2 separate regions of the Homo sapiens genome follow, and region 1 is linked to region 2. The links come from fine-mapping of genetic effects on gene expression. A gene starts in region 2. The other region holds a variant in brackets. All regions are shown on one strand. Distances are between the middles of the regions. Region 1 holds the start of GAL3ST4 (galactose-3-O-sulfotransferase 4). Region 2 holds the start of ZKSCAN1 (zinc finger with KRAB and SCAN domains 1).

Evidence for each region.
Region 1: its variant is fine-mapped to the expression of ZKSCAN1 in whole blood (INTERVAL, PIP above 0.99).

What each region holds. Positions count from the first base shown.
Region 1 is chr7:100,154,049-100,170,212 of GRCh38, forward strand. It overlaps GAL3ST4 (galactose-3-O-sulfotransferase 4), which reads right to left and starts at 14,569. Exons shown (of 4, transcript NM_024637.5): 1 at 14,498-14,569; 2 at 12,923-13,235; 3 at 12,454-12,757; 4 at 5,196-6,911. The coding sequence starts at 13,047. The coding sequence ends at 5,880. LAMTOR4 (late endosomal/lysosomal adaptor, MAPK and MTOR activator 4) reads left to right here. Exons shown (of 4, transcript NM_001008395.4): 4 at 1-155. TRAPPC14 (trafficking protein particle complex subunit 14) reads right to left here and starts at 4,675. Exons shown (of 11, transcript NM_018275.5): 1 at 4,041-4,675; 2 at 3,795-3,890; 3 at 3,585-3,714; 4 at 3,325-3,411; 5 at 3,046-3,166; 6 at 2,797-2,944; 7 at 2,586-2,668; 8 at 2,338-2,501; 9 at 1,623-1,777; 10 at 1,214-1,407; 11 at 375-1,116. The coding sequence starts at 4,451. The coding sequence ends at 963. It overlaps GPC2 (glypican 2), which reads right to left. Exons shown (of 10, transcript NM_152742.3): 10 at 15,558-16,164. It also overlaps MIR4658. RefSeq lists silencers at 3,782-3,958, 3,990-4,139, 4,170-4,809 and an enhancer at 6,256-6,755. The variant G/A (reference allele first, on the strand shown) is at 8,394.
Region 2 is chr7:100,008,014-100,024,177 of GRCh38, forward strand. ZKSCAN1 (zinc finger with KRAB and SCAN domains 1) reads left to right here and starts at 7,583. Exons shown (of 6, transcript NM_003439.4): 1 at 7,583-7,713; 2 at 15,406-15,919; 3 at 16,141-16,164. The coding sequence starts at 15,494. LOC105375423 (a long non-coding RNA gene) reads left to right here. Exons shown (of 3, transcript NR_159960.1): 3 at 3,363-3,621. RefSeq lists enhancers at 1-191, 1,909-2,408 and a silencer at 7,669-7,838.

The DNA.
Region 1 (16,164 bases), 150 kb after region 2:
CTGCTAGAACTAGGGCCTTCTGCTCGCCCACCTCCCACCCCTACCTGGACGGGCCCAGGCTTGGGGACTCTGAGCTGTGTTAAGGAGAACAAGGGCAAGGAGACCTCCCTTTGTGCTCCCTCACTCCCTAATAAACATGAGTCTGATGTTCTCCAGCCCAGGGACATGTGTGTTTAGTGTTGGAATGGTTACACCCCATGTCTGTCTTCCACCTTCTGGGGAGAAAGTCATGCACCTTAGCCCAAGTTGGGTGCGGCAGGGCCACCTCTGTGTGCTATAAAACTGGGAAGCAGAAAAAGCTGGAGGGGAAGGGAGTCACCCTGAGCCCTGGCGACCTCTGCTCTTCCCATCAGTACACAAACTAGTCATCCTTCTCCCTCCTGAACAGGCATTTAATAGTCTTATTTCAGTTGGAAGCAATAGTTGGAAAATAAGTTACAGGAACAGACCAAAAAAAAAAAAATTAAAGTGCTTCAGGCTGCAAACGTAAACATAAGGGGCAGGAGGCTACCTGGCCCTGTCCCCAACCCCTGAGACAGGAAGGTCACTGTCAGGGGCCCTTAGCCATCACCACCCTCTAATCTCAGCCCTGCGGGAGGGAGGGAGGGAATGTCAGAGGTGGGAAAGAACTCAACGGGAATGAGGAAGAGACTTTGTAAACTCAGAACCAGGGTAAAGGGCCGGGGACAAGGGAGCTCTGGGAACCCTTGCCCTGGCCTAGGGGTGGGGCCAGCCCCCCCCACAGGAACTCGGGGAATACTGGTGGCTTAGTCCCAGCCATGCCCGCCCACTTCACAGCTTCTTCCCCCATCCCTCATCAGCAGACACAAGACAGGCAGCTCTGCCAGGCCTCTTCACCCCCGTCTGGGAGGCATCCCAGGGGAGGCACAGCCCGGGAGCAGGGATCCCCTCTGGGGGCGTTGGGTCTCTGGAGTGTAAGAGGGAACAGAGCTGGCACGGTGCTACTTGACGGGTTCCACCACCAGGACCTTGCACTCGCGCTTGGCAATCTTGTCCAGAGACAACACAGCCTTGTCCGGGGGCAGGTAGAGGGGGCGGCCAACAGGAGAGGCCACAGGGGGCGTGATGGCTCTGCGCTCCATCACACTGCCCGACCTGGGGGAAGGCAGAGGCTGTGGGCGCTGGTCAGACCCGGCACCCTCGCTGCTCCCATCCTCTACCCGGTCCCATGCCACGCCCCCTGGTTCTGTACCTCATGAGGTGGCTTCGGGAAGGCTGCTGGTGGGAGAAGGACTGGGAGCGGCCCAGGCTAGCCTGATGCCTCTCCACCAAGTCCCGGACAGCAGGGCTGCTGGGGCTGCTCTTGCGGGAGAGGGGCCGGGCCTCGGGTGGAGGGTGGGACACGCTGGCGGTGAACTGCAGCTTCAGTTTCATGTGCTGGCTTAGCTGGGGGGAGACACAGGTCAGCATGCCAGCTCGGCTTCCAGGACCCAGGCCTCCTTCCAAATGGTCTTCCCCATGTGACAGACTGATGTCAAATCTAAATCCCACCTTCCCTCTGCCCAGCTTTTTATTTCATCCCCAAAATCTAAGGGTCCTGCCTCCGTCCACCCCAGCATTCTGCATCACTCAGCACTCAGCCCAGACCCTCCCCAGCCCACCTCGAAGAGCCCCGTCCTCAGAGCCTGGAAGGCCACACTGAAGGTGAGCGCGCTGCCCTTCCGGGAAAAGCCAAGGTTGTTGAGGGGCGTGTGGCAGACGACGGAGTCCAGGGCAGCCTGCATGGCCCGGCGCTCCTCCTCACACAGCTGCTTTCCTGGGGGCAGAAACAGGGACCAGCAAACACTACAGCGTTCCTCATTCCCACAGGGCCTTCGCCAGCACAGTCTCATCTGATTCTCAAAGCCACTCTGTGGAGTAAACTGAGCAAACGTTATCTTTTGTGCATGTTGTAGATAACAACAGCTAATACGTACTGTGTGCAAGGCACGTCACGTATATTAACTCAGTATCTGCATGACAGCCCCATCAGATATGAGTTGCTCTATTTTAAAGGTGAGGACTCTGAGGCCCAGAGAGGTTAAGTAACTTATTCAAGGTCACACAGCTAGTAAAGGAGAGAAGTAGAGTTCACACCAGCGAGTGCAGCTCCAGTGTCTATGCCCTGAAAGTCACTCTGCCCCACTGCCTCTCTAAACTCTCCATCTAGGACACTGGGGAGACCACCCAGGTACAGGGCGGAAGCCACCTGCCACAAGTCGCCTCCTGTGATGGGGCTGGCACCAAATTTGGCTGTTTTCACTGTCCTGCCTCCCTGACTTTTTCCTTTCTCTTCCCCTCCCTGGGGACCAAATTCCTACCTGGCAGCTGACCTACCAGCCTGTGCATGCTCTGGGGTCCACACGAGCCTCACAGCAAGGAAGTCTTGGAGATTGTTAAGCAGCGTGTAGGTGACAGTGAAACGCTCGTAGGTCCGAACAGGGGACTTACAAGAAGCGGTCATCACAAAACACGGGCGGTCCAAGCGGACACTGGGCAGGCTAGGAGTGGTGAGAGAGGGATGCTGGCTGTGTGTGTCAGGCCACAAAGGCGAACGCCACGATTCCTCCAGGATCCACACTCACCGGTAGTGGGTGTAGATGCTCTGAGTGAAGGGCAGCTTTGGGGTAGACCACTGAACCACAGCAATCAGGGGAACTTCCAGGCCCTGCAGGAGGGACAAAGGGGGTTGGCACAGGTATTAAGAGTGCCCCTCCCATCTTGAGTCAGCTGCCTGGTCTTTCCCTCCCACTGCCTTATCACTTTTCTTTGAACACACCAGCCCCTTATGCTCACCTCCTTGGCCCCTGGAGGGGGCTGCTCACCCCCTCTCAGCTGAAACAGGAAGTTGTGTTCCTCCAGGGCATTCAGCGGGCAGGGGAAGCAGCCAGAGGTCCCGGGTAGGCGGCAGAAGGAGCCCATGGAGACTTCCCCAGACTGGTGACTAGCTCAGAAAAGAGGACAAGGCATGGTCTCCCCATGCCAGAGCTCAGCCCCTGAAGCCATCCCCACCACTTCACAGCCTCGCCCCTCCCAGGACCTCACCAGACATTGTCCACCAGCAGCACAGAGCCATCGGGCATGACAGGTAGATAACTGGCGTTGAAGTTGGGGAGGATTCGGATATCCCAGATGGAGATTTCCTCCTGAGAGGAGCTGTTCAGCACTGTGGGAGAGGACCAGCTTGGCTCAGAATAGCTGGACCCCTCAGGCCCCACCTTTACCCAGAAAAAACCGGACCTACCCCACCAGCCTGCCCAGAGGAACTGCATCCAATCAGTTCCCTTGTTGCTCCCGGAGGCTGGAGCCGGCAGCCCTGCTTACCCTTGAGCACGGTCAAGTGTTTTCCAGCCACAGTGAACTGCCGGCATCTCAGAACCGGAGGGGGCAGCAGAGTCAGCAGCGTGCTCACTGCGGGAGGGGGTGGGGGCAAGAAGTGATGGTCTGGAGGCTGACCTCACCTCCAACCCAGAATTCTCACCTTCCTCTTCTCAGAGCCCATTAGCCACTTTCCAGTGTGACCCCTCCCCTCTGTCCCCCAATTCCCAGACTCTAGCCCTTTGCCTCTGCGCTGCCCTGCCCACCTTGGGCCTTGAAAGCGCTCTGCTCGCCCCGGAATGTCTCCCCAGGAGATCGGGTCTGCAGCAATCGCAGGTAGCCTTGATCTCTGACCTCTGGTGCCTCAATCTCCCGCTTCCACACAGTCACTACAATCTGTCAAGAGGAAAGACAGATGGCTGAGCCCGGAAAAGGTGTCTGAATTAGGACAATAGCTCCACTCTTGCTCATCTTACCTTGGCCTTAGGTGTCCCTGGGGGCAGTCTATCCAGTGAAACGGTGAGTGGGAAGATGACCTCATCTGTGGACACAATCGGTTCCTCCACAGGCAGCTGGGGTTGGGAAAGGGGTGAAGAGGTCAGGAGCAAGTCAGAGGCAGCCTGCAGCCTTTCCCTTTAAGACCGGCAGTTCATCTGCCTCCTGCCTCAGGCCCCCAGCAAACCGCCCCTCCGTCCTGTGCCAGGTCCCCCAAAGCTCCTCACCGTGGTCGCTCCCCCTGAGGTAGCAGGGCCCGGGCCGTGGGTGAGAAGGGGGCTGCAGCCTCGGAACAAACCCCCACCCCCAGGATCCCCTCCCCCTGGGGGCTCCGAATCCTGGTCGCCGGCGCCGCCGCCCCCCGGCATCCCGCCTCCGGCGCTGACCGAGGCCAGGGCGGCCAGGGCGGTTGCCAGTTCTGCCCAGGCTCCTCTGGAGCCCAAGCCCGGGCCGCCCCCGGTGCCGGACCCCGCACCGCCCCGGCAGCGCAACACCAGCAGAAAACGGACAGTCTCCCCCAAGTACAGATGGTTGCGCCGGGGCAGCGCCCGGTACCGGCCCGGATCCCCTGCCAGCTCCGCGCGCGGCGGCAGCGGCACGGCCGGGAAGTACATCGAGTAGTCGCACTGGGACTCCATGGGGCGGCGAGGACGGCGCGACTGGGAGCCCGGACCGGAGGCCGACCGCCGGCGGGGCCCGCTAGGGTGGGTCCAGAGGGTCCCGACACCTCCGGCTGCTGCGCCCGGCTGGGGCGGCCGGAGAGACCGGCCCGGTCCCGGCACCGGGGCAACGAACCCGAACCGAGACCCGGCAGCGCCGGAACCGGGGTACTGAGCCGAATGACTGGAGAGAAACAGGAAGCGGAAGGGAGGGGGCGTGGCCGCCGAGGCCCCGGAATCTGCGGGTGCCCGGACCGTGGAGGAGGGGGCGGGGTCCCGCTGCTCTGAGGCTGCGAGAATGCAGGCGGGGGCTGCGGCCAGGCTTCTTGGAAAAGAAATGGAAGACCTCGTCGGCCAGGCGGGTTGGCTCACGCCAGTAATCCCAGCACTGTGGGAGGCCGAGGCGGCAGGATCGCTTGAGGCCAGGAGTTCAAGACCACCCTGGCCAACATAGCAAGAACTCCTCTCTGCAAAAAATTTAAAAATTATCCGGGCGCGGTGGCGCGCGCCTGTATTCCCAGCTACTTAGAAGGCCTAGGCAGGAGGATCCTTTGAGCCCAGGAGTTTGAGGCTGAAGTGAGCTATGATTGGGACACTGGACTGCAGCCTAGGTGACAGAGTGAGATCTTGTCTCGGAAAAAAAAAAAAAAACAACCCTTCCAACCCCACTTCTCCCAGGAAGATTCTCCATCCCTCCCCTTTCCACCCTCCATAAATCAAGTAGAAGTTTCAAATTATTTATTCATTCAACAAACATGTCAGAGAGAAATGAACAGTCTAGTAGCAAATATTTCATAGAGAAATGGACGTATCATTCCAACTCACCACGCCCCAAACTTCCTGTGGCTCACTCCATCTTTTGCCCCTCTAGGGAGCTTCGGTGATGTGGATCTGCCTTGGGGCAGGAAAGGGGAAGGGGAGGTCAGGCCTAGTGGCTCACGCCTGTAATGGCAGCACTTTGGGAGGCAGAGTCATGTGGATCACCTGAGGTGAGGAGTTCAAGACCAGCCTAACCAACATGTTGAATCCCTGTCTCTAAAAATATAAAAATTAGCCGGGTATGGTGGCACGTATCTGTAATCCTAGCTACTCTGGAGGCTGAGGCAGGAGAATCGCTTGAACCTGGGAGGCAGAGGTTGCAGTGAGCCGAGATCATGCCACTGCACTCCAGCCTGGGGGACAGAGCAAGACTCCGTTTCAAAAAAAAAAAAAGTTGGGGGGAAAGAACAAAATGAGTGGAGGGTGGAGGAGGGAAGCACTGCTGGGAGCCCAGCGAAGAGGGGGCTTGCATCGGGACAAAGACTCATCCCTTCTGGGAGATGCAGAAATGGCATCTTGCTGCCCCCCACTCATCACATGTGCCCTTCAAACATGGCTGCTCTTCCACCTAAATCTGTAGTCTGATGTTTATGGGGAGAGTGGCCTTGAAGTCTTGAGGGGCAGTGAGACGGTAGGGGGGAACTGCTTGGCATCCAGCTTGTCCTTGTACTGGAGCTCAGGGGTAGCTAGGCGCTCACATTCCTCTTGGTCTTGGGGGCTCAATCCACTCCGAAGTATATAGCCCAAAACCTTAGCTGACCCAAACTGGAAGGGGCGGAACCGGCGATCAGTGATGTATTTGGGGTCAGAAGCCTCACCCCCTACCAGACAATGTTTCGCTAGGGCCTCTCGGCGAGCCCGGAGCTCGGCCACAGCTGTCTGCAGCCGGCCCTGGCCGTATTTCTCTATCCGTGCCCAGAGACTGCGGTTGAAGTGGACATAGAGAGCCCAGTCCAGGTTGTTCCAGGCTCGGGCCCGTGCAGTCAGCTGCCGGTCCTCCGCAGTCAGTCCACTGTTGCTGACAGTGCTGAGGCCCTGCTTATGTCCAGCCTGGGCATTGTGCATGAAGCCCACCACGTCATCTAGACCCCAGCACAGGGCATCTGCCAGCAGAACCAATGACTCATCGAAGTACTCAGCCACCATGACCAGGTCAAAGACAGAGTCCAGCCATGCCAGACCCCACTGGATGAAGGATGAAGACCCCAAATCGAAAGAGGCAGGGCTTGATATCTGGCTGCGATGATCAGTAACAGTGGAAACAGGATGGATGAGGGCATTGGGATTGAGGGTTTGGGCTCGAGGGCCAGCACCAGAAGGCAAGACCTGCAGCTGTGGGGGGTTGGGGTCTCTGGGGGGATGAATATTCCCTCTCTTGGCCCTCTTCTCTGGGGGAAAGGGCAGGCCAAAGTCAAACCATAGTAAGTTGCGAGCGTAGTGGTCCCCACGGGCCCCAGGCCTGTAGAAGCCTCGAGGATTGGCCAGGAAGGCAGCCAAAGATGGTGACTTGCGGAAGGCTGATGAGGTGGATTTATAGTAGGAGAAGGCAGAGCGAGCCAGAGCCGCTGGGTCTCGGACAATGGAAAAAAAGAAGCTGTCAGAAGGCATGACCTGAAGTACCTGCAGAGGAGGGAAGACAGAAGAGAGAGAACTGGGCTGGGGAGAAGGTATGCATAAGTATGCACAAGCCATGTGTCCGCTGACCAGCCTCCTGAAACCTCCTCCTCCCAGCTCTGCTAGGAATCCCCAGCTTCCATCACTTGCTGAGTGGCAAGTTACTTAACATCTCTGAGACTCAATTTGCTTATCTGCAAATGGGGATAATCATACTTTCTCAAGTGACTATGAAAGATACATGAGATAAAACATACAAGAAATCTGGAGCATGGAGCCAGGCATGTTTTGTGTGCCTGTAGTCCCAGCTACTCAGGAGGCTGAGGCAGTAGGATGGCTTGAGCATTGCTATGTTGCCGAGGCCAGCCTGGGCAACATAGCGAGACCCTGTCTCTACAAAAATAAAACTAAAAAGCCGGGCATGGTGGCTCAAGCCTGTAATCCCAGCACTTTGGGAGGCCGAGGCGGGCGGATTACTTGAGGTCAGGAGTTCGAGACCAGCCTGGCCAACATGGTGAAACCCCGTCTCTACTAAAAATACAAAAAAATTAGCCAGGTGTGATGGCACACGCCTGTAATCCCAGCTACTCGGGAGGCTGAGGCAGGAGAATTGCTTGAGCCCAGGAGGCGGAGGTTGCAGTGAGCTGAGATCGTGCCACTGCACTTGACAGCCTGGCCAACAGAGCAAGACTCTGTCTCAAAAAAAAAAAAAAAAAAACTAAAAAAGTTAGCAGGTCAATCAATGATAGACTGGATAAATAAAATGTGGCACATATACACCATGGAATACTATGCAGCCATAGAAAAGAATGAGATAATGTCCTTTGCAGGTGCATGGATGAAGCTGGAAGCCATCATCATGCTCAGCAAACTAACCTACTCCAGTAAACTAACAAAACTAACACAGGAACAGAAAACCAAACACCATGTGTTCTCACTCATAAGTAAGTGGGAGTTGAACAGTGAGAACACATGGACACAGGGAGGGGAGCATCACACACTGGGGCCTGTCGGGGTGGGGAGCAAGGGGAGGGAGAGCATTAGGATGAATACCTAATGCCTGCAGGGCTTAAAACCTAGATGATGTGTTGATCAGTGCATCAAACCACCAGGGCACATGTGTACCTATGTAACAAACCTGCATGTTCTGCACATGTATCCCAGAACTTAAAATAAAAATAAATTAGCGCGGTATCCTGGTACACACCTGTAGTCCCAGCTACTCAAGAGGCTGAGGTGGTAGGATTGCTTAAGCCCAGGAGTTCAAGACAAGCCTGAGCAACACAGCAAGACCCTGCCTTGAAAGAAAGGGGCCGGGTGCAGTGACTCACACCTGTAATCCCAGCACTTTGGGAGGCTGAGGCGGGTGGATCACAAGGTCAGGAGTTCAAGACCAGCCTGGCCAAGATGGTGAAACCACATCTCTACTAAAACTATAAAAATTAGCCAGGCGTGGTGGCAGGCGCCTGTAATCCCAGCTACTCAGGA[G/A]GCTGAGGCAGGAGAATCGCTTGAAGCTGGGTGGCAGAGGTTGCAGTGAGCCGAGATCGCGCCACTGCACTCCAGCCTGGGCAGCAAAGTGAGACTCTGTCTCAAAAAAAAAAAAAAAAGAAAGAAGCAGCCAGAGAGGGAAGGAGGGAAGGGAAGAGGAGGGGAGGGGAGGGGAGGGGAGGGGGGAGAGGGGAGGGAGAGGGGGAAGAGGAGAGGCTTGTCGGGGTCAGGGGCAAAGGAAGAGAGAGAGAGCATGAGGATGAATGCCTAATGCATGCAAGGCTTAAAACCTAGATGACAGGTTGACAGGTGCAGCAAACCACCGTGGCACATGTATACCTGTGTAACAAACCTGCATATTCTGCACATGTATCCCAGAACTTAAAAATTAGCCGGGCACTAATTTTAAAGGGGAGGGGAGGGGAGGAAAAGGAAGGGAAAAAAAAGAAAAAGAAAAAAAAAGAAAGAAGGGAGGGACGGAAACCTGGAGGATAGGAAACTCCTGGAGAACATTAATTTCCTCGGGCATTTCTGTCTGCCTTGGTCAGTAAAACCTCTAGGAACCAACCTTTGTACTCATTTCTCCAGCAAAAACCTGTTGAGTGCCTGGGAGGGGGCATCACTGGCAACAAAGGAGCAACTATAATGCCATCTCGGGCATAGGCAGCAGGTGGGCAGGCCAGGCCCAGAATGGCTGAGGGGTAAAGCACTTCAGGGTCTCCTGGGCATCCTAGAGGGCAAAAAACACCCTGGGCTGGGACACTGGGAAGCCACGGCTGCCTGGTAGGATGCTGCCCTGAGGGCTGGGACACGTGATTACACCGCTCTGCAAGAATGAAGGTGGAGATCAGGCTGCACCACACCCTAACGTGGCCCTGCAGGCTGATGCAGGTCAGAACCTAGCTCCTAGTCTCCTTGAAGGGTTTCTGCCTCCAAAAATGACTTCCATCATTGAATCTGACTTCTGTCTGTCATGGTGTTCCTCAATCGGCTCTGCAAGTATGGCACACCTGAATAGCAGCCTGTGAACTCTCTTTTTTTTTTTTTTTTTTGAGGGGGAGGACAGGAAATGAGCATTTTAGCTTTTCAGTGTTTATTTTCTTCTTACTATTTTTTAAGAGACAGTGTCTCCTTGCTCTGTCACTTAGGCAGCATATCATAGCTCACTGCAGCCTTGAAAACTCCTGGGCTCAAGGGATTCCCCAATCTCAGCCTCCTGAATAGCTGGGACTACAGGCACACACCAACATTCCCTGTTAATTTTTAATTTTTTTGTAGTGATGGGGTCTTGCTATGTTGCCCAGATTGGCGTTGAACTCCTGGGCTCAAGTAATCCTCTCACCTCAGCATCCAAAACACTCGGATCACAGGCATGAGCCACCATGCCTGGCCCTGCAGGTCTCTTTGAAGGCAGAGGGGAAAGCGAAGAAAACAGTCTTTGGCATCTGGACCTGGAATAAAATCCCACTCTGCCATTTACTAATTCTGTGACTTTGGGCGGGTTATTGAAGGTCTCAGAGCCATCATTCCTCCATCTAGAAATCTGAGTAACTGGGTAACACTTACCTGGAAGAATGTGCAAGTGTCTGGAACATGGTAGGTATTCAGTGAATGGTGGCGTCAGTGAAGGCCATCATCCTAGCCTCTGGAGAAACCTACCTCAAAGGTCACTGTCATTGCCTCACTCCTGGCAGTGGCCTTTCGCTGCCCATCAGAGCACGCCCATGTCCTCAGCTGGTGTCTCCAGCTCCAGCTTCAACAAGGGTGACTTTGCAGCCCCTGTGGAACTTCTACCCCCAGTACAGACGTTCTCCCTCTTACATGCACACACACACGTGCACCCCACCATGTCCTTGCTGGTGTTTTGCTCCCTCTAAGAATGCCTCATGCTGTCCTTACCACAAGCCACATCCACCTTTTCCTTTAAAACCCCCCGCTCTCGGCTGGGCACGGTGGCTGACACCTGGAATCCCAGCATTTTGGGAGGCTGAGGTGGGCGGATCACTTGAGGTCAGGAGTTTGAGACCAGCCTGGTCAACATGGCGAAACCCTGTCTCTACTAAAAGTACAAAAATTAGCTAGGCGTGGTGGCGGGTGCCTGTAGTCCCAGCTACTTGGGAGGCATGAGAATTGCTTGAACCCGGGAGGCAGAGGTTGCAGTGAGCTGAGATCGTGCCACTGCACTCCAGCCCAGGGGAAAGAGCAAGACTCTGTCTCAAAATAAATAAAATAAAAATCAAAATTAAATAATAAAGTAAAATAAACCCCCCTCTCCAGAAAGCATCACCTCTTTGGTGAATATTCTTCTCACCATTCCAGATACAAACACATGCACAAGCCTCGGAAGAAGCCTCGACTTTGGAGTGCATGGACCTGGGCTCAACTTCCAGCTCTGCCACTTTAATTTTCAATTTTATTTATTTATCTTTCTTTCCTTTTTTTTTTTTTTTTGAGACAGAGTCTCACTGTGTCACCCAGGCTGGAGTGCAGTGGCACGATCTCAGCTCACTGCAAGCTCCGCCTCCCAGGTTCATGCCATTTTCCTGCCTCAGCCTCCTGAGTAGCTGGGACTACGGGCACCCACCACCATGCCCGGCTAATTTTTTGTATTTTTAGTAGAAACGGGGTTTCACTGTGTTAGCCAGGATGGTCTCGATCTCCTGACCTTGTGATCCACCCGCCTTGGCCTCCCAAAGTGCTGGGATTACAGGCGTGAGCCACTGCGCCCGGCCTTTTTTTTCTTTTGTGAAATGGAGTCTCGCTCTGTTGCCCAGGCTGGAGTGCAGTGGCACAATCTCGGCTCACTGCAACCTCTGCCTCCTGGGTTCAAGCAATTCTCCTGCCTCAGCCTCCCGAGTAGCTGGGATTACAGGCGTGTGCCACCACGCCTGGCTAATTTTTGTATTTTTAGTAGAGACAGGGTTTCACCATGTTGGCCAGGCTGGTCTCGAACTTCTGACCTCAGGTGATCTGCCCACCTTGGTCTCCCAAAGTGCTGGGCTTAGTCCCGGGCTAAAAATACAGCTGATCCTCAAAATGTGAGGGGGTTGAAGAAGACAAGTCAGAAGGCAGTGGGGGAGGTGGGGCCCTGGTGTGACAGTGAAAGGGAGGCTAAGAAAGGGAAGGGGCGTGTTGTCCTAGGTACTTGCCAGGCTGAGGTGGGAGGATCATTTGAGGCCAGCCTGGGCAACATAGTGAGACTCCATCTCTACAAAAAATAAAATAAAAAAATAGCCAGGTGTGGTGGCATGCACCTGTAGTCCCAGCTAGTTGGGAGGCTGAGGTGAGAGGATCGCTTGAGCCCAGGAGTTTGAGGTTACAGTGAGCTATAATTGTACCACTGCATTCCAGCCTGGATGACAGAATGAGACCCTGTCTCACACACACACACACACACACACACACACACACACACACAGGCTGGGCAAGCTCACTCCTGTAATCCCAACCCTTTGGGAGGTCAAGGTGAGCAGATCACTTGAGCCCAGGACTATTTATTTATTTATTTAAGCCCAGGGGTTTGAGATCAGCCTGGGCAACATAGCAAGACCCCATCTCTACAAAAAATTAAAAAGTAGCCACGTGTAGTGGCACATGCCTTAGCCATAGCTACTCAGGAGGCTGAGGTGGGAGGATCACTTGAGCCTGGGAAGTCAAGGCTGCAGTGAGCTATGATTGTGCCACTGCACTCCAGCCTGGGCGACAGAGTAAGACCCTGTCTTCCAAAAAATAATTTAAAAACAGAAGAGTAAGGGGCACCTGGAGGGAGAGTTGGGGGCTCAGAGTTGGCAAGGCACTGATGCCAGGGAAATACATTGGTGAAAGAGAGAGACTGGAGTAAGCGCCAGAGAGAGAAGGGAGGAGGACTTGGGCTCCCAGAAACTACTGGGGAAGGGACACCTGTAGAGAGGATGGCAGGGAGCCCAACTTTGTGGCCCCTATGTCCAACTTTAGGGTGAGATGATGCCTGGGGAGCCCCCAGGTCTGGGCCCCCTCCCTTGGTGGTGTCAGCCTGAGCCCATCTGTTTCTGGTCCCTCCCACCACTGCGACACTCCTTACCTCTTTCAGGTTGAACCTCATGTGGTGACAGAGGATGTGGAAGGGGAGCTGGGTGCCTCCACCCTGTGGGCGGTAGCCTTTTACCCTAGAGGCCTGGAAGAGCTTTGGGTAGCCAAACTGGTAGCGGGCAGGGAGGGCGAAGCGCAGCCCGTGCTGGTCCCCATAGCGGTGAAGCAGGCTCAGCACAGAGCTGCTCCCGGATTTATGTGTCTTCAGGAACACCAGTCGCTGCCGGGGTGGGCAGGACGGAAGGGCTGGTCGTAGGGATGGGGCCGAGGGCTGTCGGAGCTGTAGCCCAGGTAGCCTGGGAAGAGATGGAGGGGGAGTGTCCTGTTCCTCAGCAGCAAATGGGTAGAAGGGACAGAGGGCATGGAGGCTTCTGAGTCCTCAGGAGTCACCAGCCCCAGGTGGGATGGGGAAGAGCAAGTACGGGGCGTCTAGAAGGAGTTGGGGCAAAGTGGGAACTCACCTCCTCTGGAAGGGCCCTCCCAAGAGCTGGAGTGCAAAGCCAATGGTCATGAAGACTCCCAGAGCCACCCCCAGGCTCCGAGGTCCCCAGAGCCGCAGCGTCCTGGCAGGAGAGAGAGGGCCCATGTGGCACAGGGAAGGGTGAGGTGACAGAGAGATGGAGCCAGGGCCAGGAAGAGGGGCAGAGACAGCTGGAGACAGCCGTGCAGCTGCGGAAGGCACTGGTTGGAGATCGGGGGGTCATTCCCCAGGCCTGCTCACAGTCTTGGTTGAGTCTGCCCCCTGAGTTAGCAGATTTTTGCCTCTGTCAGCGTCTAGAAGGGAAATGAGGGGGGAAGAAGGGAAGTCTAAGGAGAGAGGCAGAGGCAGCCTTCTCTCCTGCTGCAGCTGAGACCTCCTTCAGGGAAGGGGAGTGGCTGGGGATGTTGTCTATACCCAGACTCTCCTAGGTGGCCCCACAACTACTGTCTCTGCTCTATCACTTTCTTATCTCCAGTTCCTCCCGCTCCCCACCTACAGTTGTCCCTGAGCCTTGGGGATTTATAAGGGAAGGAGAGAAAAAGCCCCAGCTCGTGAATGAAACAGCCAGCAAGAGAGAGAGAGATCAGATCAATCAGCTCATTAACACAGTCAGGTCAGACCATGGTCGGGAACCTGGTTTCCTCCAGAGCCCCTCTGGCTGTCACAGATGGGGATAAAGAGCCCTATCCCAGGACCAGGAAGGGAAGCCATACAGTGGGAATGAGGATCAGACAGGACACAGGTGTATGAACCCAGGCAGGAGGAAGGGAGGTTGGACTTCCAGGAGTGGCATTGCAATGGGTAAGAGCCATTGGGTTATAAATTCCCGCGCCTCTTTTTTCTCTGTCTCAGCACGGGGCAGACCCCCATGTATGACAGGGGCTGGGGGAGACGTGTGGCTACTTATAAAGCCCAGATCCCTGGACTTACCCACCATTCCACTTTCCAACCTTATCAGTGCACCCGGAGGAGACTGAAAGGGTGGGGCTGGAGAGGGAGACAGAAAGAGAGAGAGACACACACACACACACACACACACACAGAGAAACAGAGAGAGAGAGACAGAGGGACAGAGAGACTATGACACAAAGATAAGGAGAAAGGCGCAAACACTAACTGCAGAGTTCCTTCTGAAGCCCGAGCTTCCTAATCAACCGGGAGTCCAGCCCCGCCCCTTCAGATTACAACTCGCGATCAGGGACCACGGCCCCTCCAACAAGCCCCGACAGCTCCCTGCTCCGATGAGCCAGGGGTAACCCCAAGCAGAGAGAAGCCACACTTTTACTCCCGGAGACCTGCCCTCTCTGGCATCACTCCCCAATTCCCTCCCTGATCACAGCCCCTGGGGTCTAGCCGCGTCTCCCCTATCCAGAGTTCTTCATTTCCTTCCATCCATCTCTCCCTTCCCATGATTGGAGATCCCAGCCCTCTGTCCCCTCCAGCTTTGGTGACTGCCCAGTTGCCCCCGCTGGGGTTCCATGAACCCCTCATGTCTCCTCCCATAAATTAGAGGGTCCCTCCACTGGTCCTATCCTTGGTTTCACTTCCCACTCACCAGGCCACAAGGGGAGCAGCAAGGGAAATCGGGCCGGGCCCTCCCGCCCATCCCAGCCACCGCCCGACTCTTGGCTCAGCTCAACTTTCCCCAAGAACTTTCTCAGCGCCCAGGCTCCTCCCTCCTCCCTTTGTGCCGCCAGCCCCAGCAGCTGCTGCAGCTTTGATCGCGGTTCTAGGTCTCTCCCTCGCTGCATCTTCCCCTCTTCGGCAGGGCACCCAGACTCCTCTTGGAAGACACCACTTCCGCCCCCGCTTTCACACTTGGGAATCAATCCTACCATTTTCTCTTGGCTTGCCGCAGAACAAAAGATTCATTCAGGCGGTGGAAAGAAAGAAGGAAGGAAGGAGAAAGTGATATTTGAAAGCAGACATTGTCAAGGACGTGGCAAGGTAGCCAGAGACTGACACTCAGAGAACAAGGCCTCCCATCCTGAAGGCAGGGGGCAGTGGTGTGGTCACCTTAATAATGCTTCGTGGCCGGGTGCGGTGGCTCACGCCTGTAATCCCAGCACTTTGGGAGGCTAAGGCTGGTGGATCGCTTGAGGTCAGGAGTTTGCGATCAGCCTGGCCAACATGGTGAAACCCCGTCTCTACTAAAAATACAAAAATTAGCTGACTGTGGTGGCAGGCGCCTGTAATCCCAGCTACTCAGGAGGCTGAGGCAGGAGAATCATTTGAACTGGGGAGGCGGAGGTTGCAGTGAACTGAGATCGCGCCATTGCACTCCAGCCTCGCGACAACAGCGAGACTCTATCTCAAAAAAAAAAAAAAAAAAGCCTCATGTTCAAAGAGCATTTTGCAGGTGACAAGGTGCTTTTTCACACAGATTCTATTTGGTCCCCACAATTCTCCCTGTTGTACAAACGAAGATGCTCAGAGGCCCAGAGGGTGGGCAATTTGGAGATCAGAGGTTATTGTCTAGGCCCGCCTCCTGGGGGACAGGTGCCAAGGGAAGTGAAAAGCCGGCAGAAAATGAGCCAGTCACAGAGGCTCTGAGACCTCTGCTAGGAGCCAGGGCTCAGGCACTGATGGTGACAGCACAGAAGCCACACATGGGGTCCAATACATTACCATTTATTTGCAGAATAAACATGGACTCAAACACTGAAACATGGAGTTTGTGAAGGATGTGGGTGGCAGAGGTCACGAGATGAGCACCCCCCCACCTTGTTTTTTTTAAAATTTGGTTTAAGAAATTGATACTGAAAAAACTCAACAGAACCCAGGCCCATGAAGTCTCACATCCTACTCAAGCACCCTCAGTCCCCTGCCCTGCATCCAGCTGGTCCATTTCTGAGACCAGATGCCCCCACCCCTCCCCACTTCCAACTTCCTTCAAACCCCTTCCCCAGCTGCAACTCTAAACTCCTCATTTTCTCTGTTGGGGCTGATCACCAGCCCCAGCCTTAGAGGGCTAGAGACTATACCTTCTAAGGAAACCACACTCCCTCCTAAATAAATACCCCCAGGCCCCCCTCCCATTACCAAATGAAAAAATAAATATTGTGAACACCCACCCACCTCTGATGAAAATCTCCTGGATTTGGGGCCCCAGCCATTCACCTGCAAAGTCCCTTCTCTACCCTCTCTGCAGCCCCCTTCGACTCCTCCCCAGGCCCAGCTGAGGGGGGAGGAGGGGAAAGGGCCATGAACCCTTCTGATGCT
Region 2 (16,164 bases):
CATGGCAACGGTAAACTGACATGGCACTCTGGTGGGCATGTCTTATGGAAAGCTGCTTCTGCCCTGGCCCCATTTTAGCTAATCCTCAATTTGGTCCACTGTCCAAGCCCCACCTGCAGAGTCAAGTCCCTCCTCCCACCTCAGCACTGCTAGAAAAGAGCTTCAGGATGGAGCCACACATGTCACTCAAGCCCAAGGGTCAGTCAACAGCCCACAGCCCTAAATTCATCTGTGTCCAATGCCAGACCCTGCAACTGCTGATTTACATGAATCAACTCCATCATGCAAGCCTCATGACATCCCAATGAGGTAGGTGCTGTTTGAATCCTCATTTTACACTTAGAGAAACTGAGGCTCCAAAAGTTCAAGTAACTAGACCAAGAGTACATGGTACAGACAAGATGAGAACCAAGACCATCTGAGTCCTGCGCCCCTCTACTATACACCATAGCTAGGAAGGATATGGCTTGGGCTGACTTGGGAATGAGGCCACAAGGCTAGGGGCTGTTTGGTTTGTTTTGATTTGATTTGATTAGGCACCAATGTTCTCATAAACATCCGTATCCAGACGCAGGTGCTTTTGCAGTCATGTGACTGGACGTGGGCTAGGACTCTGTTGTCCGTGGCTGGAGTCCATAGCTGAGAACAAAGAAGGAAAAACTTCAGGAGGACACTCCCAGCCCACAGCACGGCACATCAAAGATCCCAGATGCCACCTACGTGACAGGCAGAAACGCTCGCGAGCTTTGCTTGCTCAGCCAGTTTTTCTGCTCCTCAAGTCTGGACGAAAGCAGCAAGAAAGAGAGAAAGGACTTGGTAGAAGCCAAAGAGAAAGGACTTTGCCTTCTGCCTATTGGTGGGGGCTTCCCTCTCCTCCTCCATGACTGGTTCCCTTGCCCCCTCACCATGAAGACAAGTGAGAATGTCTTCAAAACCTGGGGACAGAGGCTGGGTGCGGTGTCTCTCACCTGTGATCCCAGCACTTTGGGAGGCTGAGGTGGGCAGATCACTTGAGGCCAGGAGTTCAAGACCAGCCTGGCCAACATGGAGAAGTCTCATATCTACTGAAAATACAAAAAATTAGCTGGGCGTAGTGGCATGCACCTGTAACCCCAGCTACTGGGGAGGCTGAGGCAGGAGAATCACTTGAACCGGGAAGCAGAGGTTGGAGTGAGCTGAGATTGCACCACTGCACTCTGCACTCCAGCCTGCACAACAGAGGGAGACTCCATCTCAAAAAAAAAAAAAAAAAGAGCAGGGGGCAGGGCGGGCAGGAATCCCAGTCACCAGGGAGACTCCATATCTACAAAAAACCTCATCCTCGGCCAGGCACAGTGGCTCACACCTGTAATCCCAGCACTTTGGGAGGCCGAGGCAGGCAGATCACAAGGTCAGGAGATCAAGACCATCCTGGCCAACATGGTGAAACCCCATCTCTACTAAAAATACAAAAATTAGCTAGGTGTGGAAGCACAGGCCTGTAGTCCCAGCTACTCAGGAGGCTGAGGCAGGAGAATCACTTGAACCCAGGAGGCGGAAATTGCAGTGAGCCGAGATCACGCCACTGCACTCCAGCCTGGCGACAGGGCAAGACTCAAAAACAAAAACAAAAACAAAAAAACCCTCAACCTCTAGTTGAGCATTATTTTAAATAGGAGACTCTCGTGCCTAGGCAGGTGGCGGGTGATTCAACAAAGCCACTAAGAGGGGAAGGTGGCCAGGGAGGGGCAGGAGCACCACAGGAGGTCCACGTTCCATTCACTAAGAGGGGAAGGTGGCCAGGGAGGGGCAGGAGCACCGCAGGAGGTCCACGTTCCAGCCATTTGAGTGGCCAAGGGTGCCTGAGTTTGTCACAGATCAAATGGACCCAGGAGCAGGTAGCTGGACTTGAGTTGTCCAACTGGTGCCCCCACCCAAGAATCTCCTCAAAAGGAGGTTGTGCAGTGCCCTGCTAGGGGCAGAAGGCAGATCGACTGGGACAGGGGACTGAGTAGTAAGCAGGCCCCCAAGGCCCCCTGAGGATTTCATCCCTGAACACCACAAGCCAACGTTTGTGTGGCTGACGCACAGTAGCGGTAGACTGTGTTTTCCAAAAGTGACCTTGGCAGCGTTTTTGGTCCCACATGCAATTCCAGAACCACATCACTTCCCATCAAAAGGTGGCATCTGGCTGGGTGCCATGGCTCACGCCTGTAATCCCAGCCCTTTAGGAGGCCAAGGTGGGCAGATCACCTGAGGTCAGGAGTTCAAGACCAGCCTGGCCAACATGGCCGTCTCTACTAAAAATACAAAAATTAGCCGGGCACAGTGGCAGGCACCTGTAATCCCAGCTACTCAGGAGGCTGAGGCAGGAGGATTGCTTGAACCCGGGAGGTGGAGGTTGCAGTGAGCCAAGATCGCGTTACTGCGCTCTAGCCTGGGCGACAAAAGTGAGACTTAGTCTCAAAAAAAAAAAAAAAGGTGGCATCGCCAGGCATGGTGCCTGTAAAACCAGCACTTTGGGAGGCCAAGGCAGGAGTATCCCTTTAGCCCAGGAGTTTAAGACCAGCTTAGGCAACATAGTGAGACCCCATCTCTAACAAAAAATAAAATAAAATTAGCTGGGTGTGGTGGCGTGCACCTGTACTCCCAGCTACTCAAGAGGCTGAGGTGGAAGGATTGCTTGAACCCAGGAGTTTGAGACCAGCCTGGGCAACATAGTGAAACCCCCATCTCTACAAAAAAAATTTAAACATTAGCCGGGCATAGTTGCTCATGCCTGTAGTCCCAGCTACACGGGAAGATGAGGGTGGAGGATCACTTGAGCCCAGGAGGTCGAGGCTGCAGCGAGTCATGATTGTACTCCAGCCTGGGTGACAAGAGTGAGACCCCGTGTCATAAAAAAAAGAAGAAAAGAGGGGGGAACATATTTTCCCTTCCCCTGAAACTAGGTGTGACTTTATGACTGCCTCAAGGCATTGAATGCAGTGAAAGGGATGCTGAGTGCTTCTAAGATTAGGTTATAAAGGACATGTGGCCTTCATTCACCTGTCCCCTCTGTCTCTCTGTCACCCACTCCACTTCCTTCCTTCCCGTACCTCCTTCCTTCCCTCCCTTCCATTCCCTTCCCTTTCCTTTCCTTCCTTCCTTCACTCCCTCCCTCCCTCCCTTTCTTTCCTTCTTTCCCTCCCTCCCCTTTCCTTCTTTCCCTCCCTCCCTCCCTGCCTTCCTTCCTTCCTTTCCTCCCTCCCTCCCTACCTGCCTGCCCGCTCACCTGCTCTTCCTTCCTTCCTTCCTTCCTTCCTTCCCTTCCCTTCCCTTTCCTTCCTTCCTTCCTTCCTTCCTCCTCTCTCTCTCTCTGGATACTTGTCCTTGGACCCCAGCCACCATCCTGTGAGGAAGCCCAGAGCACATGAAGAGACCACCTGCACATGTTCAGATCCACTGCCCCAGCTAAGATCTCCGCTGACAGCCAGACCAATCACCAATCTTAGGAGCTGGCGAGCCTTCAGATGGTCCAACCTTTGAGGCCCCCCAGAGGAGCCAGGTGGAGCATAGATGAGCCATCCATGTGGATCCCTCCACCAAATGGAAGATTTAGGAGCAAAATAAACAATGTTGTCATTGCTTTCACCCACGAAATTGTTGAATAATTTGTTTTGCTGCTTAAGTAGCTGGAACACTGTGTTACCGAGGGAAGAGCAACAACCAACAGGAGAGAATAGTCAGTTAAGTAAGAGATTTTTGACCCTCTCCCTATCCGTCCACTTTGCTCAACACAACAGAGAAGCCACAGCTTCCAATAGGAAAATAGAGAGGGAAGGTGTCTCCAACAGTCAGATCACTCACTCCTGCCACCCCAGGGAGAGGGAAGGGGAGGAGGAAAAGCATAGATGAAAGTACCCTTCCCACAGCAGGTTCCCCAGCCACAGCCCTAGCCGACAGTAAAGAAAACTCAGGCTGGGCACGGTGGCTCACGCCTATAATCCCAACACTTTGGGAGGCCGAGGTGGGCGGATCGCTGGAGGTCAGGAGTTCGACACCAGCCTGGCCAACATGGCAAAATCCCATCTCTACTACAAATACAAAAACTAGTCAGGCAGGTGGCACACGCCTTTAATCCCAGCTACGTGGGAGGCTGAGGCAGGAGAATCGCTTGAACCTGGGAGGCGGAGGTTGCAGTGATCCCAGCCTCGGTGACAAAAGCAAAAACTCCGTCAAGAAGAAAGAAGAAGACTCAGTAAAATGGGACCTTTGGAATCAGATATAAGACTTGGGTTTGTTTTTTTTGTTTTGTTTTGTTTTTTTTAAGACAGAGTTTCGCTCTTATTGCCCAGGCTGGAGTGCAATGGTTCAATCTCGGCTCACCGCAACCTCTGCCTCCTGGGTTCAAGCGATTCTCCTACCTCAGCCTACTGAGTAGCTGGGATTACAGGCATGCACCACCATGCCCAGCTAATTTTGTATTTTTAGTAGAGGCGGGGTTTCTCCGTGTTGGTCAGGCTGGTCCCGAGCTCCTGACCTCAGGTGATCTGCCCGCCTTGGCAGCAGCACCCCATCTGGAGTGGCCACTGCCATGATGCTGGCTGCAGTGAGTGAGGCATAGCTGGGATCGCAGCACTCCACAGAGCTGGAGGGAGCTGGGAACACATGGAAGCCCCCACTCCTTCCAAGTTGGAGGGACAGGAGACCCTCCCTCCCAGGAGTAGCTGCAGCCACCCAGTCACAGCCGCAAACCCGGGCTCCCCTTCAGCATTGACTCCACCAGCTTTCACAACACAGAAGTCAAACTTAGGCAACCACAGTTTCTAGGGTGCCCTTCAGGAACTTTTATTTGTTCAGGGCAGCCAGCCAATTTTTAAGCACAATGTCTCTTTGTAATCATAAATCATTAGTTTCATGATTCTTTCAACACTTTCATCTTAGAGTCCTTTCAAAACTCTTGGGTGGATACCACCTGATCTTGTCAGCTGAGCTTGTTTGCTGACAGGTCTAGAACCCTGGGGTTACAAACGTTATTGCCTATATTCCCTCTGACTATCTGTGGGACCAGTAATCTCATTTCTTGGAATCCATCCTTAGGAAGTAATCAAAGATGTCGAGGCCAGGCGCGGTGGCTCACACTTGTAATCCCAGCACTTTGAGAGGCTGAGGTGGGTGGATCACTTGAGGCCAGGAGTTCGAGACCAGCATGGCCAACATGGTAAAACCCCATCTCTACTAAAAATACACAAATTAGCCAGGCATGGTGAGTGCACACCTGTAATCCTAGCTACTTGGGAGGCTGAGGCATGAGAATCACTTGAGCCCAGGAGGCGGAGGTTGCAGTGAGCTGAGATCACGCCATTGCACTCCAACATGGCAACTGAGGGAAACTCTCTCAAAAAAAAAGAAAGAAAAGAGGCCAGGTGCAGTGACTCACACCTGTAATCCTAGCACTTTGGGAGGCCGAGGCTGGTGGATCACTTCCTGCCTCTGCCACCCCTGAGACAGCAAGAGCAACCCTTCCTCTTCCTCCTCAGCTTACTCAGTGTGAAGACGATGAGTATGAAGACCTTGATGATGATCTATTTCCACTTACTGAATAGTAAATATATTTTCTCTTCCTTAAAAAACAGTGTTCACATGATATGAATGTAGCAGATACTTCCAGGATACCAGCCTCCTCTTCAATACAACTGCAACTATGGTTTTGAACAGTGTTTAAAATAATATCAATAAATATTTATTTGTATATGAAAACAGGAAAAAGGTAAACTAAAGCCATGGGGATTGTGTTAGGGTGGAGAGATTACCGGTAATTATTTTTCTCCATTTTGCAAATTTCCTTTAATGATACTGTTGTTGCTTCTTTTTTGGATACAGAGTCTAGCTCTGTCCCCAGGCTGGAGAGCAGTGGCACGATCTCGGCTCACTGCAGCCTCCGCCTCTGGAGTTCAAGCGATTCTCCTGCCTCAGCCTCCCAAGTAGCTGGGACTATAGGCGTGTGCCACCACGCCCAGCTAATTTTTGTATTTTTAGTAGAGACGGGGTTTCACCATATGGGCCAGGATGATCTCAATCTCTTGACTTCGTGATCCACCCACCTTGGCCTCCCAAACTGCTGGGATTACAGGCATGAGCCACCGTGCCCGGCCCTTTTTTTCTTTTTTGAGATGGGATCTTGCTCTGTGGCCCAGACTGGGGTGCAATGGCACAATCATAGCTCACTGCAGCCTCAACCTCCTGGGCTCAATCTATCCTTCTACCTCAGCCTCCCAAGCAGCTGGGACCACTGGCACACACTACCCTGCACCCAGCTAATTTTAGTATTTTTTGTAGAGAGAGGGTCTCATTACGTTGCTTAGGCTGGTCTCCAACTCTTGGGCTCAAGAATCCTCCCGTCCCAGCCTCCCGAAGTGCTAAGATTACAGGCTTGAGTCATCGTGTCTGGCCCTGTCATTGCTTTTTAGTTTTCAAACATTTTTTAAAAAGTAAATCTGGCCGGGCACGGTGGCTCACGCCTGTAATTCCAGCACTTTGGGAGGCTGAGGCGGGTGGATCACAAGGTCAGTAGATCGAGACCATCCTGGCCAATATGGTGAAACCCTGTTCTCTACCAAAAATACAAAAATTAACCAGGCATGGTGGTGTGCGCCTGTAGTCCCAGGTACTCAGGAGGCTAAGGCAGGAGAATCGCTTGAACCTGGGAGGTGGAGGTTGCAGTGAGCCAAGATGGTGCCACTGCACTGCAGGCTGGGTGACAGAGCGAGACTCCATCTAAAAAAAAAAAGTAAATCTCTCCAAGCAGTAAGAGTCATGCAACCAAGCTACTGAGTTTCTCCCATGAACTTGTCTCGGAACATAGTGGAAAGTCACAACCATTAAAGCCTGTAGTCCCCCCCACCCTTGCACAACGTGGCCCCCTCTTATGCGTGCCTTACCCTGCAAGGCAAAGATGAAGGCTGTAACTGTGGTAGGTTGTGAAAGCACTTTGAAGGTAAAAGTGTCTGTTGTTACTCTGAAAACTCCTTTTAAACGGCTATAATAGCATATGCCACATGAGCAAAGCACAGAACCTTATAACTATGCTTGCTTGTGGAAAGACATCCCTTGTCCACGGGCCAAGTATTTGAAAATACCACTCCATATAGCTCCAGGGCCCTGAGAGAAGCTACCGTGGCAGCTTTGGGAAACCAGCCACCCTTGGCTTCACTTTGATCTTCCTCAGTCTACATCCTTGTTTCAGTTCCTTTGCCACAGACATACAATTACCAAGTACTATATTGCTTGATAATAACTATAATTACTACAAGGACTGCCTGAGATGAAAAAGACAGGTGAAATCGAACTTTCACATGGACTGGTGTCTGAGCTGGAGAGTCTGTTTGAGTTTGAGTAGGGGAAAGCCTGAAACCCCCCACCACCTGCTCCCGTTAGTCCCTGCATTAACTAGGGGCGGACTGGGACCTGATCCTCCAAGCTGGAGGCTTGAAAACTCAAGGGCAGGCGCCTGGTCCAGCGATTCGGAAACCGAGATGCAAAGTCCTCCCGCGCTCCTAGAGAGGACCCGGAAGCGCGGCGCGGTCCCGGAAGACGAGGTGGTGACACGCTTCCGGCCTTTGTGACTCATTGTGTCTGTGTCGAGGCGTCGGGAGGGCCTAAGTCCGTGTGCGGTGCCCTTCGGCCGGCCTGAGCCCCAGAGTCAGCTCCCCTTTCTCGCCCAGCGCCCCCAGGCCGCTCCCGGGGCTCACGGTGAGACTTGGGGCCGGCCTCTGGGGTGGGAGGGCGGGGCCGCAAGGGTGTGTGCGCGAGGGTGGGCTCCGCAGCTGCGGCCCTGGGACCCCCTCCAGGCGGCCCCGCTGTTGTGCGAAGAGAGTCCATGCCCCTGCCTCCTGGCCGGGCCCGGCCGTAGAAAGCGCCGTTCTTCCTGGGAGACGTCCCCGCCCCACCCCCAGGATCAGGCGGGGAGGGGGCGAGGGTTTCAGTGGCTGAGGGTGCCCGGAGACCCGGGGAGAAGCCGTCTGTGGGCCCCTCTCCCGCAGTGTCGTCATCGCCCTTTGACGTTTCTGCAAACGGGGTCGCGAGCGAACCGACCCCGGTCTTGATTTTTCTGCTCTCCCTTAGTCGCCATTTGCTTTGATTCCGGTGAGGTGTCTTTTTCCCCCCCCGGTTCCTTCGGGACCTCGAGGTGAAATGAGCGGAAGGATGAGAGATGGACACATTTTGAGGTGCCGCATACGTTTCCAGACCTGCCTTTCCTTCTCCCACCCTCATCACTGAGCGGTGATTAAAGAGTATTTGAAGCCTAGTCATAGTGGATAAATAGGTGATTGGGATCTAGTAGAGATTATATACACCCCACTCTTTCAGCTTGATGGAATGCTTTGAAGGCTTTGGAAAAGAGCTGTCCGGGACGTTAGGTGGATTTTTCAATTCTGGATAGTTGCTCTGTTTGACATGGAGTGGGGTGAGAAGTGAAGGGAATTTGTGGAAATTGCACTGTGTCACTAGGAGACTGATTAGCTGAGTGACCTTGGATAAGACGAGACACTCACCAAGTCTTAATTTCGTCATCAATAAAAACTAACTGGATTTTCTCAAAAGGCCCTTCCGACTTCGAAATGATTTGGTCAATGTAATTGAAGAATTAACTACAGTTTAGCTTGACACTCCTCCATCCCTCCCCTCCCTTTCCTGCAGTGCCCCCTGTACACAGTAAGATACTTTCATTATAGAGAGTGGCTGTTCCATGGCCTGGGACCAAAGAAAGCATTTATTGTACGGGCCAGTGCTAGGCGGATTGGAGGCGGTCAATAAATACTTGTTGAATTGAATTGTGGAGAATTCATTGTAACCACATCAGCAAAGCACTGTTAGTATATATGCTGAACAAATGTGGAGAAATCGCTGTTTTACATAGGAAACCATGGTGATTTGCCCCAGAATGTGTATCCAGGTTTGTATCTTCTCTGAATTAACATATAAGATTCTTGTTTATTATTTCAGGCAGTTTTCACCACTCTTAAAATACAAACGAGGAAGCTAGCTACTTAGTCTTTTGCTCATTCTCGATTTAAAAGCATTTAAAATACAGATGAATAGCATATTAAATCTAACATTTTCATTCTGTGGGAGTATCAATATTCTTTGAATAGCTAGCTGTCTTTTAAGGTAGCTTTTTCATATTAAAACATTTGATTGCTCTTTAAAAAAATGAGTGTAAAGGGCAAAGGGCAATTTATTTAAAAAAAAATTTTTTTTTTTTTGAGACAGAGTCTTGCTCTGTCGCCCAGGCTGGAGTGCAGTGGTGCGATCTCGGCTTACTGCAACCTCTGCCTCCCGAGTTCAAGCGATCCTCCTGCCTCCGCCTCCCGAATAGCTGGGACTACAGGCATGTGTCCCAAGGCTTGGCTGATTTTTGTATTTTTAGTAGAGACAGAGTTTCGCCATGTTGGCCAGGCTGGTCTCGAACGCCTGATCTCAGGCAGTCCGCCAACCTCAGCCTCCCAAAGTGCTGGGATTACGGGCGTGAGCCACTGTGTGCCCAGCCTTTGTTTACATTTTCAAGACTATGCCCTGGAAAAATACTGGGCTGTTTGGAACACAGCCTTTGAGCTTGTAACTTCAAGCCGTTGTTTAAGAAAATCATTTCTGTTTATCCTAGGTGAGAACTGAGGTATCCTTAGCTGCTGGAGGTAATTTTATTTAAAGTGGATGGTATGTCAGTATGTTTTTCAGCCCATATTCACCCAGAGGTAGTTTCCTACTATCTGGAACCCCCACCCTACCCCCATTTGACTGATAAAGATACAAAATGCCAGAGAAGTTAAATACCTCTCTCAGGGATGTGCCACTTACTTGTGGGAGACTAGAATTCAGTTATTGCCTGTGCAGCTTTCACTATTACAGGAGTTGTCCCATTGCTTAATCTTCTAAGCAGGCTGAAAATTGGAATGTACAGTTACATCTTTTAAGCTTATTGAAAAAAATTAAGACATTTCTGTAGTGCCTACTAAATGCCAGGCACTATTTTAAGTGCTTTATATCTATTACCTCATTTAATCCTCACGGCAACTCTATGGGACAAATGCTGATTTTTATTCCCATTATACAGATGAGGAAACTGACGCATAGAGAGGTTAACTTGTTGACTTGCCTAAGGCCGTCAACTAGTAAGGGGTGGAGCAGCTTTAATGCTAACCTGAAACTCATCCAACTAGTCCATGGAACAAATTTGAGTGCAACATTGAATGTAGAATGATCGGGCTTTTAAAAAATAGTAACGTTGTCAATTCAGTCAAGTGTATTTTTGAAACTGAGGCTTGCAAGGAATCATGCTAAGTGGTCTAAGGAGTACAAAGAGGACTGCTCTTAATAATCTAGTTGAGGAAGAAGGCAAGAAAAATTACAGAGAAAGAAACATCATGAGAAATTTTTTTTTTTTTTTTGAGACAGAGTCTCGCTCTGTCACCCAGGCTGGAGTGCAGTGGCGCAATCGCAGCCTCCCGGGTTCACGCCATTCTCCTGCCTCAGCCTCCCAAGTAGCTGGGACTACAGGCGCCCGCCACCACACCCAGCTAATTTTTTATATTTTTAGTAGAGACGGGGTTTCATCGTGTTACCAGGATGGTCTCGATCTCCTCACCTCGTGATCCGCCCACCTCAGCCTCCCAAAGTGCTAGGATTACAGGCATGAGCCACTGCGCCCGGCGCATCATGAGAAATTACCTAGCAAATGTTTGGTGAAGAGTATTAGGGCCTTTAGAGACAGAAGAGTATGTGCTCAGATCATCTGGGAAACCTCAAATAAAACCCAGCCTTTCCACTGCTGTGATGGCTTTTCCCTGCACCCCAGAGTAGGAGCAGAGAGATACTGAAGGTGAGGAGGAGGATCTGTCCCAGTTGTGGGCAGAGGGAATGTGCCCATGTCTGTGTCTATTTCCCCCTGGACTCATTTCCTCCTTAGAGTCGCATCTTCGCACTGACCCAAGAAGTGTCCTGCTCAATAGCTAAGGCAGGATAAAACTTTCACAAAAGTAGGGATTTCTGGTGGCTGGGCTCGCTATCACACTAGTTCTGCTCAGTTACCATGTTTGAAGATCCCACCTGGTTATGTTGTAGACAGTCCCCACTTGAATCTTCTGCTGTGTCTCCTCCCTTTCCCAGGAAGGGCTTCAGTCACATAGTGACCCTCCAGTGAAAACTGGGTGGTAGATAAGGCCCGTTCCTGAGTGATTTTTTTTTCTCTTTGAGAAGGAGTCTCTCTCTGTCACCCAGGCTGGAGTGCAGTGGCGCGTTCTCAGCTCACTGCACCCTCCACCTCCCAGGTTCAAGTGATTCTCCTGCCTCAGCCTCCCGAGTAGCTGAGATTACAGGTATGTGCCACACATCCAGCTAATTTTTGTATTTTTAGTAGAGACGGGGTTTCGTCATGTTGGCCAGGCTGGTCCCGAGCTCCTCAGCTCAGGTGATCGACCCTCCTTGGCATCCCAAAGTGCTGGGATTACAGGCGTGAGCTACCGTGCCTGGCCCTGATTGATTCTTCATTGTCACGTTCATAGGCCTTCATTTTAGGATCTGTATACCCCACATGTCAGGTACAAGATAAATTTTGTATAATGGTTAAAGAGTTTACATTGGGGAATCACTTTTATTTCAAATTCTGCCTCTACCATATACTTGCTGTGTGACCTTGAGTAAGTTATTTAATGGCAGTATATCTCAGTTCTTCTTTTGTTTTTTTTTGAGATGGAGTCTCACTCTGTTGCCCAGACTGGAGTGCAGTGGTGTAATCTCAGCTCACTGCAGCCTCCGCCTCCCAGGTTGAAGCAACTCTCCTGCCTCAGCCTCCCGAGTAGCTGGGACTACAGGCATTGCACCACCACACCTGGCTAATTTTTGTATTTTTAGTAGAGATGGGGTTTTGCCATGTTATCCAGGCTGGTCTCGAACTCCTGACCTCAGGTTATCTATCTGCCTTGGCCTCCCAAAGTGCTGGGATGACAGGCATGAGCCGCTGCGCTCAGCCTCTCAGTTCTTTATACAGTGAGATGATAAGTGTAGCTACCTGCTAAGATTGTTATGTGGTCAAGTGAAAATGCTTAAATACCCGGTACCTAGAAAGCACTCAGTAAACATTGGCTCTTACTGTTATAGTTATGAGAGGGTTCTTGAACAGTGATAAGAGGCAAGTCGCGTTTTAGCTAGCTTTAAAGGTTAAGTAGGATTTGAAAAGGCAGAGAGGACTGCGGGGGGAAGTCCCAGGCATGGAGTGTGATGTGAGGAAAGGATGGCAGTCAAAATACAAGGCATATATAGGAAATACTGATGAGAGGGCTTTTGTTGCATAGGGAAGGTTTATGGGGGGATTGATGGGAAAAGAAGCTTGAGGGAAAATTGGGACCAGGCACTGGAAAGTATTAACTGCAAGGCTGTAGAGTTTTAGAAAGAATAATCTGAAAGGTGGATTGTGGGAGAGAAGGGAGAAAATGAAGGCAGGGAACCAAAGAAAGGAAGCTGGACTTCATGGAACTAGATTAAAAAAAATAAGTATGGCCTGTAATCCCAGCTACTCAGGAGGCTGAGGCAGGAGAATTACTTGAACCCGAGAGGCGGATGTTGCAGTGAGCTGAGATCATGCCATTGCACTCCAGCCTGGGCGATAGAGCAAGACTCCGTTTCAATATATATGTATATATAATTTTTGTGCTGTTATATGTACATGATCCCTTTTTCACCAAAATTAAGAATATGTTTAGTGAGAGCCATAAAACTAAAAATGCTTTTGCTAGTTTAAAACTCGGTTTAACCCATCATGATAAAGCAGTTTAATGGTCTGTTTCTAAAACTTCAATTTGATGCTTAGTTTTGATGGCTGTAGAGGTGAAAAGAATAAATTCAGAAAGATTTGTAGCTTCAGATGGAAGAATCACAGTGTCAGTTCTGCTTAGTAACTTGTGATTGATCCAACCTATCAACCATGCTGAATTTTTGTTGTTGAAATGCAGGGTATAGTCTTACAAACTAATCAGGTGGTGGCATTTTATATTTTTAACAAATAGGCTTAAGACCCACCTGAAATTCTTCATTTGAAAGATTTTTAAACAGGTTAGAAAATATTTCCAAGTTTCTTTTTTTTTTCCTTTTTTTTTTTTTTTTTTTTTTGAGATGGAGTCTCACTTTGTTACCCAGGCTGGAGTGCAATGGCGTGATCTCAGTTCACTGCAACCTCAGCCTCCTGGGTTCAAGCGATTCTCCTGCCTCAGTCTCCCAAATAGCTGGGATTACAGGCGCCTGCTACCATGCCCAGCTAATTTTTTGTATTTTTAGTAGAGACGGGGTTTCACGATGATGGCCAAGCTGGTCTTGAACTCCTGACCGCAGGTGGCCCCCTGCTCCCTGCCTCAGCCTCCCAAAGTGCTGGTATTACAGGCATGAGCCACCTCACCCAGCCCCAAGTTTCTAAAATGTGAACATAGATGGGTTTTTCCTGGATACTTGACATCATTTTTGGCAGTTAAATTACATAACAATGGAACCATTTCATACAGCTGTTCCTGTAATTGCCCTTTCTTCACACTTTCTTTAAAGAAGCTGATTACTCATTGGTGACTTTTTCTTTGATTTAGACTGACATTGGTTTTTACCTCCTAATGTGGCTAAAACCTTACTCTAGATAGAAGCTTCATCTGTGCCATTTTCTTCTTGTTCACATCTGTTTATATTATTAGTGTGTCCTGTAATTGCAGTTTCTCTATAAGAATCTTTTTTTTTTTTTTTTTCCTTTTCCTGATAGGGCTTTGCTCTGTCACCCAGGCTGGAATGCAGTGGCGTGATCGTAGCTGACTGCAGCCTCAAACTTCTGGTTTCATGCAATCCTCCCACCTTAGCCTCCTGAGTAGCTGTGACTGCAGACACAGTCCCCATGCCCAGCTAATTTTTTTCTTTTTCATAGGGACAGGGTCTTGCTATGTTGCCCAGGCTGGTCTCAAACTTCTGGCTTCAAGCATCCTCCTGCCTCATCCTCCCAAAGGGCTGGAATTATAGGCATGAGCTACCATATCTGGCCACAAGAATCTTTAAAGCTGCTTGTCTCTTTTATGACAGAGTCTCGCTCTGTGGCCAGGATGGAGTGCAGTGGCGCGATCTCGGCTCACTGCAACCTCCGCCTCCTGGGTTCAAGTGATTCTCCTTCCTCAGCCTCCCAAGTAGCTGGGACTACAGGTGCCCGCCACCGCGCCCAGCTAATTTTTCTATTTTTAGTAGAGACAGGGTTTCACCATGTTGACCAGGATGGTCCCGATCTCCTGACCTCGTGATCCGCACGCCTTGGCCTCCCAAAGTTTTGGGATTATAGGCATGAGCCACTGCGCCCAGCCAAAGCTAGATTTAGAAATCCATTATTTCACATAACTGGTCTCAGATAAACCAGTCTACATCACAATGTCTAAAATGAACAACACCTGTGACAGGTCAGCACAGACTAAGTAAGTGTATTAGTGTCAATTTATAGCTTAATTTCTCTCTCTTTTAAGATACAGACATTCCAATTATTTTCTTTCTGTATCCTTTGCGGATCATCTTGTACTTTGGAAACCACAATTTAACTGCCCAAGTCACTCATAAAAATAGCAAAAGTAGCTGGATGGTACAAAAGTAGGTCCCAGGGCTTCAAATTTGGTTGAATATTGACTCCAGTAGGCAGCCACCTACTACTGAGCAAACCTAACCCTCAGTTATGTCATTTGTAAAACAGCACTTAACAGTTTGGCCGACCTGCTAGGGCTGTTGTAGGGACAAAAGAAGATGGTGCGTGTACTGCTTTAAGCCTGGCACCTGGCACTCTGCTAACATTCAGCTCTCTGGGCTGGGCACTGTTAATGCTCCATTTCGTAACCTGCTGTCAACCTGCAGGTAAATCACTCTGACTCCAAGCAAACACCCTGAGGGTGGAGTCGGCCTGTTTGAGGTTTCTGTTTGCAAATCTTGATATATGAAGTGACAGTGGAGATTGTACAGTTTTTTCCTCGATTTGTCAGGATTTTTTTTTTTTTGACGGAGTTTAACTTCTTGTCTCCCAGGTAGGAAGTGCAGTGGCGTAATCTCGGCTCACTACAACCTCCACCTCCTGGGTTCAAGCGTTTCTCCTGCCTCAGCTTTCCGAGTAGCTGGGATTACAGGCGCCTGCCACCATGCCCTGCTGACTTTTGTATTTTTAGTAGAGACGGGGTTTCACCATGTTGGCCAGGCTGGTCTTGAACTCCTGACCGCAGGCGATTGGCCTGCCTCGGCCTCCCAAAGTGCTGAGATTACAGGCGTGAGCCACCACCCCCGGCCTCAGGAGCGTTCTGATAGTGCCTCGATGTGCTGCCTCCTATAAAGTGTTAGCAGCACAGATCACTTTTTGTAAAGGTACGTACTAATGACTTTTTTTTTATACTTCAGGAATAGTAAAGAAACACATCATAAAACCTCCCAGGACATAAAGGTGAGCACAGACCCTGTTTGGATCAAGTCAGTTCCTGGAGCCTGAATGATGACTGCTGAATCACGGGAAGCCACGGGTCTGTCCCCACAGGCTGCACAGGAGAAGGATGGTATCGTAATAGTGAAGGTGGAAGAGGAAGATGAGGAAGACCACATGTGGGGGCAGGATTCCACCCTACAGGACACGCCTCCTCCAGACCCAGAGATATTCCGCCAACGCTTCAGGCGCTTCTGTTACCAGAACACTTTTGGGCCCCGAGAGGCTCTCAGTCGGCTGAAGGAACTTTGTCATCAGTGGCTGCGGCCAGAAATAAACACCAAGGAACAGATCCTGGAGCTTCTGGTGCTAGAGCAGTTTCTTTCCATCCTGCCCAAGGAGCTCCAGGTCTGGCTGCAGGAATACCGCCCCGATAGTGGAGAGGAGGCCGTGACCCTTCTAGAAGACTTGGAGCTTGATTTATCAGGACAACAGGTAAAAAGAGGTGAAACCTATTATGTGTGAGCAGGGCACAGACGTTGAAACTGGAGCCAGGAGAAGTATTGGCAGGCTTTAGGTTATTAGGTGGTTACTCTGTCTTAAAAATGTTCTGGCTTTCTTCCTGCATCCACTGGCATACTCATGGTCTGTTTTTAAATATTTTAATTCCCATTTACAAAGTGATTTACCCACAAGCCCAACCTGTCTGTCTTCAGGTCCCAGGTCAAGTTCATGGACCT